Linked DNA regions of Homo sapiens. The protein of the gene in region 1 purifies or fractionates together with the protein of each later gene. This does not show direct contact. Each region holds a gene or a part of one and is shown on either strand. Other genes may lie near its edges.

The links.
Region 2: the proteins of BCL9 (region 1) and LHX4 purify together in Homo sapiens (affinity purification with mass spectrometry, with the first as the bait; one large-scale study listed by BioGRID). This does not show direct contact.

The regions. Positions count from the first base shown.
Region 1 is NC_000001.11:147,607,501-147,611,000, reverse strand, and holds part of BCL9 (B-cell CLL/lymphoma 9 protein), read right to left. Parts: intron 1-3,500. UniProt on the Homo sapiens protein: Involved in signal transduction through the Wnt pathway. Promotes beta-catenin's transcriptional activity.
Region 2 is NC_000001.11:180,261,264-180,264,763, reverse strand, and holds part of LHX4 (LIM/homeobox protein Lhx4), read right to left. Parts: intron 1-3,500. UniProt on the Homo sapiens protein: May play a critical role in the development of respiratory control mechanisms and in the normal growth and maturation of the lung. Binds preferentially to methylated DNA.

The DNA.
Region 1 (3,500 bases):
TGCCCCCTGATTTCCATGATCTTTCTATTAAATTATGCCAAGTATGTGTCTAGTGTTCTCACTGCTTAATGACAGGGACTGCAGGCATGGGTAAGCATGGGAATGATCCATAATTCTGAAAGTAAAAGAACATCTTTGAAGGCTAAGATATTTTTTGAGCCAATTTGCAAGGCTAATTTGAAGCATAAAGGTCAAGAAAATATTCCCAAACCTAGCTAGAGAACAAATGAGAAAGTCCTTTATTCAGGGAAGCCTAGACAAATTCAGGTAAAACCAAGACATACTTTAAGTCTCTGCTCCCTCCCAGGGTAATTCCATTATGGTTTTCTTGTAACCACTATCCCATTATCAACCCCCTTCCAGCTTCTAGTATCTTACTGACAAAGTATAGGAATGAAGGAGGAGAATATTAGGTGCAGGACTAGTGACTACAGAACCAAAGGGAGTTAGAAACAGCTCAGGTGTTGCAGCTTACATGTACTTTGAGAGAATGGAGACTGGGCTAAAATTGGGAGGATCAATTATATCCTAGGTTGTAGCACTATGATCACTGTCACATGTTAAAGGTCTATTTCTTCATTTAGAAATCTGCAATAGTCTCAGCTATTTTACCTGGGACAGTGAAAGAAATTTATGGAAGTTCTGAGTACACTCAATTAAATTTTTTCCTTTTTAAATAAAAAAGTCAGGAAAAAGAACTAGAATAAAAACATTATGAATGTTTCTATGCTGACCTCAGGAGACAGCATGTTAAAAAACATTTTGGTCTTGATCATATTTAAGGTTCTATTTTTATCCCCATCAGCTTCCAGCTTTTTTTTTTTGGTTTAGACTAAGAAATGGATTCTGGTTGTCAAGTTGGACATATATAATCATAAACCATTTTGTAACCTCTCAATGAACATTAGAAATCACTGGGAAAATAGAAGTAGAAAATGAATCCTGCATGGACAAAGCCATCAGAAAACATTTACCTCAGGAAAAGAAAAGCAGTTACCACCTATATAGTCCCCCTCCACAACTTCTTCTAGTACTTTCTGTCTGCATCACGTATTCTAGCACTCAATCACATGTCGTACTGAATAATACTAGGTGTATATTTTATCACCCTGTGAAAACTATATTCTTAGAAGCCAAGAACCTTGTTTTAAAGTTCTTTTGTTTTTCTATAATACTCAGCATGATGTACTAAGCATGTAGTTAGATCCTCTGTGACTTATTCAAGTTCTCCCATAACAGAAACACCTGGCATTTGTGTTACACACGTCTTCCAAAGAAACTCAAAACATTACAATTATCAAATCACCTCATTAATCTGCCAAGCATTTATGATGAGCTGGTAGCAAAGATTATTTCTAATAATAATGCTGTGAACATAAAACACTTTTATTTTCGAAGTACTTCTACATACAGTTTCATTTTCTCACAATTTGCCTGACTTTGATTGACAGGCATTTTAGAGATGAATGAATGGAGCACATGGGGTGTGAATGGCTTCTTCCAGGTTTCCAATCACTGCTCTCAGACCCTGGCTCTTTCCTTGAAGCCATCTTCCTTCCCATTACTTTATGGAGGGAGAGACAGCACAGAGGTTGAAATAAGCATGTGGGTTCACCCAGTGACTGGGATCAAAATCTAAGTTTTTCAATCCCTAGCCCAAGGAAATAAGTTGTCCCTACTTTTAGCCTTTCTGATGATAAAAACGACTGAGCAAAAAATCTGCCAAACATCTTCTATAGTTCCAAAGAATAAAATTAGGCTCTTCAGGAGGTTAGAGTTCAACTGTTTAACCACCTTTAAGGACTGGAAAGGATCCTCCACAGAATCATTATAGCCAGAGAGATTTTTTTCCCCCAACATAACTACATCTCCTAACACCTTAGATCTACTTATACAATGTTTTTCTCTTCTCTTCTTAAATTAGTACTTAAAATTTTTACTATGTGCCATGCATTGTTCTGAGTACTGTACAAACATGTTAACCCAGTCACAACAACCCCAGGAGGCAGGTGCCACCACTATTTCTATTTTAGAGATGGGAAAACGGGCTCTGCAATGTTAAGTAACTTGACCAAGCTCACACCCTAGTAAGTGGTAGTGGGCATTTAACCAGCACTCTGGCCACTCCGGCCCCAAAGTCTATGCTCTTCATCACTGTAGTGCCTGTTAAAGTAGAGCCTTGGTGGGCAAGGTGAGCTAGTTCATATAAAGTGCTCAGCAGTATAATGTAAGCACTCCAGTGTTAAGTATTACTATGACTACTACACTCTCTAGCAAGCACGCTGGCTTATCATGCCAGAAGCCACTTCAAAATACCTTCTACGTCTCCTAGGTACCCCGTTTCCTCCCTTCCTTCCCACTCCCAATACCTGGACTTGCCCAGTACTTAATAGGAAGAGATGTTGCCAGGCAGAAAGTTCTTAACTGCTAAATACACAAACCAATTTTCATCAATATCTATCTCCTCTTTCTTTTCTATTACTGAAACAAAAAATAGCCCACTTTCTCCCAAAAGTCAATCCAGCCACAGGTGGACTAAGCCTATCCCTTCCAGCCTTCTGAGAGCTCTCATTTTCCCCTCTGGCCATCCCCTCTGTCTGTTGGATCTTTCCAATCAGCATTCAGACAGGCTGTAGAATCTTTCCGTGCTAAAAAAAAAAAAAAAAAAAAGCAAAACAAAACCCAGGTCTAGCATTCTATTACCCCTTAGAGCCAAATTTCTCCACAGAGTTGACGAGACACAGGGTTCACTTCCTCACTTGCCATTCGACCTTTAATCATTTTAAACCAACTTCCACCCCCAGATCATAGTGACCACTATTTTTGTTAAGGTCACCACTGGCCACTTTGCTAATCTCATCTTACTCCATCTCTTAGATTCTGCCAGTTGCTCACTTCATTCTTGTTAACTCTTCTCCTGGTTTCCATAACACCTCATTTTCCTAGCTTTCCTCCCACCTCTCCAGGCCTTCTTTATCTGCTTCCTTTGCAGGTCCCTTTTTTACCTGATCTCTCAACTTTAGAGTTCCTCTGGACTCTACTCTGAGTCATCTTCTCTTCTCATGCTGCAAGTTCTCTCCATGCCAACAACTCCCAAATTTGCAGGTCCATTCCAGCAGATCTGTATACACATCTACCTGCTTGACATCTCCCTGGATGTCTCAAACTTAACAGGATCAAACATGAATTCTTCAATTCTGTGTATAGCCTTCCTCCTGAAACCTTTTTCCTTCAGTTTTCCATATCTTAATAAATGGCTCCTTTATCCACCCAGTTGCTCATGCCAGAAATTTGGAAGTAATTCTTGATACCTCTCTCCCTAAACTTCAACTTTCCCATATCAAGTTTGAATAGTTCTGTTGAATGAATGAAGTCTTGGCTTAAGTGTTTCTTTTTCAGAGGAGAAGAATCCCTTAATGCCATCAATCTACATAAAATTTTCTATTACATTCTTTTTAAAGCATCTAGGGTTTTTCAACATTTTTCATGCTTTGTAATTA
Region 2 (3,500 bases), about 33 Mb from region 1:
AGCAGGAGTTCTCTGCGTGAGGGTCAGCATAGGCCTGTAAACCACCTGCTAAGTTGTTCAAAATTGTGCCTCAGGAGGGGACCTGGGTTTTCATCAGATTCTTAAAGGGATTCAGGACCCAGGAAAGTAGAGTTAATATTTGTTGAATAAATAAATCAGCAGATAAAGCACCATACTTGTAGAGGATGTGCACGGAGATGGCCGAACCTGAGGATGTAGAACAAAGCACACAGTCGGCTCTGGATGGTTCTAGACCTCCCAGAACACAGGTGAGAACCAGGTCCTCCACAACTGCTGTGTAACCACATCACCTGGATCAAAGAGGAAGGCTGGCAGGCACCCACCTCTACTGTGTGTGTGTGTGTGTGTGTGTGTGTGTGTGTGTTATGTGTGTGTGTATAACAGAGAAAGGAAGCCTACACATGTGTTACTAGAGAGTGTTTTCAAAAGGCCTGTATATTTAATATCCAATCCCAGCCAATTTGCAAAGCAGGTACTGAAATGAAACAAGGCACCAGGTGTGGTGGCTCACGCCTGTAATCCCAGCACTTTGGGAGGCTGAGGCAGGAGGATCACTTGAGCCCAGCCTGGGCAATATGGTGAATCCCTGCCTCTACAAAAAATGCAAAAAATTAGCCGGGTGTAGTGGTGTGCACCTGTAGTCCCAGCTACCTGGGAGGCTGAGATGGGAGGATCACCTGAGCCCAGGGAGGTTGAGGCTACAGTGAGCCAAGATCACGCCACTGCACTCCAGCCTGGGCAACAGAGCGAGACCCTGTCTCTAAATTAATTAATTAAAATGAAACAAGGCTTTCATCATGCTTGTTGCGAACCCTCCCAACAAACCACGCAAATCTGGAGAATGTGTCCTAACCAGAGATCCAAGGAGAGGAGGGCTGAGAGGAGACCCCGGAACAGAGGGAAGACCCTTCAGCAGCCTCCTCCACAGGGGCCACACTCTCTCCCACTAAAAAGCAGGCAGGGGGCTTTCAGTCACCGGAGGCCCAGCTGACACCAGCACACCAGAGACATGAAAGATAACGGGGGTATAAATTTAATCTACATACCGACAGTGATTCATGCATGAGGGTGGCAAGTGCACAAGAAAAATGAAAAATAAGTGGACTTCCCCACCAGCGTTTTTTAGCAATTGAAGCAATTTTCCTGATTGTGGGATTTATACTGAAGGGAAGTGGAAGTGGCTCCTCATTACCTTTTCCCCTGGAGCACAGCCAGCGGGACCCTTGCCGAGGGAGCCGCATGCAGCACCTCCTTGGCCCACAAGGCTCCCCCGGCCCAGCCCAGCCCTGCAGATCACCCTCCACCCCATCTCCAGTCAGAGCCAGTGTATCTAGAATACAGGGCATCCTACAGGGGTGTGTCTGTGATGGAGACACTGTCCCCATTCCCAGATCTTAGAATAGCCAGAGTCACAGGTGAGAAGGCCAAAGCCTGGCAGGTCACATGACTTGCCCTGCGACAGGCAATAATGAGACACACGGTCATGCCTAGAATTCCCTGGCCCCACACGAGGTAAAACTGTGAACCCGGCTGCTACACAGAGAACCAGAAGTCTAACCAACTGGACCAAATATGAAGGACGCTGGGGTAAAGAGGGAAAGGCTGGACTCCAGCCAAGGAAGAGGGCTCCCAAGGGCTTTTCCAAGCAGCACCCCTTAACACCGATCACCGGGCACCCATGCAGGGGCACCAAGGGCACTGGCCTCACCCTTCAGAAAGATAAGCCTGCTGCCCAGTCCTGCTAGCCAGGCCTCTGGGGACAACCAGTCCCCCCAGGAGAGCAGCTGGAGCTGATCCAAAACCACAGAGAAAATGCAAGGAAGACTTGCTAATGGCTCATATTATTTTCATCCTCTAACCAACACCACTGGAAATTGTCTTATCCCTGCCCAGCACATAGTAGGCAAGCCACAAAGACCCAATGAATGAATGAATGAATGAACGAATGAGCAAACGAATGAGTGAACGAACGAACTGCTTCTTAAAACATTTGCCTGAGTAGTCAGGGGAGGCTTGGCTCTCCATAATGGCAGCTCTTTTCTTTTCTTTTTTTTTTTTTTTCAAGTTTGGTATTAACTTTGTTCTATTTTTGGTCTAACTTTAAGTACCTAAAGATTTATTTCCACAGGCCTCAGAAAATGGGTAGAAATCACAGGACAATCCCTCTTCCCACCAAAAAAAGTTGCATACTTTGGTAAGTGTTTATCCTAGAGGGAAAAAGCTGAAATTTACATTAGCAGTGCTGTGCAAGATTCTGACATAAATCACGACCTCAAACCAGCCTGCAGTGGAGGTTCTAGTCTTCTGTTCAGGCACTTGGACAGAAGCCATAGCTGATGAGCATGACAGGGAAAAGGAGGCAGTAAAGACAGGTGACAGGCACCTTGTAGGGAAGGAGGATTCAGGAATGCCAGGCTCCTTGGAATGGTGTGCTGTTTTTCCTTTTTTTTTTTTTTTTTTTCCTTTCAAAGTCATCTCTGTAGGAAGGTGCTGGGCAGCGATCCCAGAGAAAGAAAGGTCCAAGACTCCTTTAACTGTCCTGGATGAAGGGCAGTGCTACAGCAGCTAGTACCGGAGACTCTCCTATCTCATGGTTGAGGCAGACCCAGGATAGAATAGAGAATAAAAGGAATGCTTATAGGAAACCATTTTGCATGGAATGCTAGATGGCCAAGCCTCAGCCTTTGGTCCAGTGCAACCCTTGCCTCACTTGTCAACAGTGAAAAATTAGTTTGGTTAGAGGAACCATCTGGAAACACACCAGCTTCTGCTAGCTTCATGTTCATTGCTAGAAAAAGATTAACCAGTGTGAACATTCTGATCTGTTAATTCCTGGGATTGTTTTCTTCCCGAAGGACTGTTTGTTGGTAGGATAACCCCCAAAAGCTCAAAGCTAAAATGCATCATCAGTCCTGGTTGGCAGTTCCTTAAGAATGGACTGGCGGCGTGAGCGAGCTGATATGGACAAGCTGCCCCTTCCTGCAGAACATCAACTGACCTACTATCTCACCCCAAATCTCTGCCTGAGGTATATTTCAGTGAAGGCAGTTAGTTGTGCTTCTCAGAGCAGAGAAGCAGTTTTAAGCTCTTTTCTTTAGGGGTGAGGGGATCTCACTCGGTTGCCCAGGCTGGAGTGCAGTGCCACAATCATAGCTCACTGCACTCGAACTCTCAGTCTTCCCACCTCGGCCTCCTGAGCAGCTAGGATCACAGGCACATGCCACCATGCCCAGCTCATTTTTTAAGACATGTTTTGTAGTGATTGGGTCCTACTATGTTGCCGAGGCTGGCCTTGAATTCCTGGTCTCAAGTGATCCTCCCACCTTGGCCCCCAAAGCACTGGAATTACAGGTGTGAGCCATCCCCTTTGCCTCTGCTGTCATTAGCTTCCCCTCTGCTGGCTCCTTCCATCCATGTACAGGCATGCTATGATCCCTGCCTGCCTCCCTTCTCTACCGCCCACTCCCCGCACCCTTCAG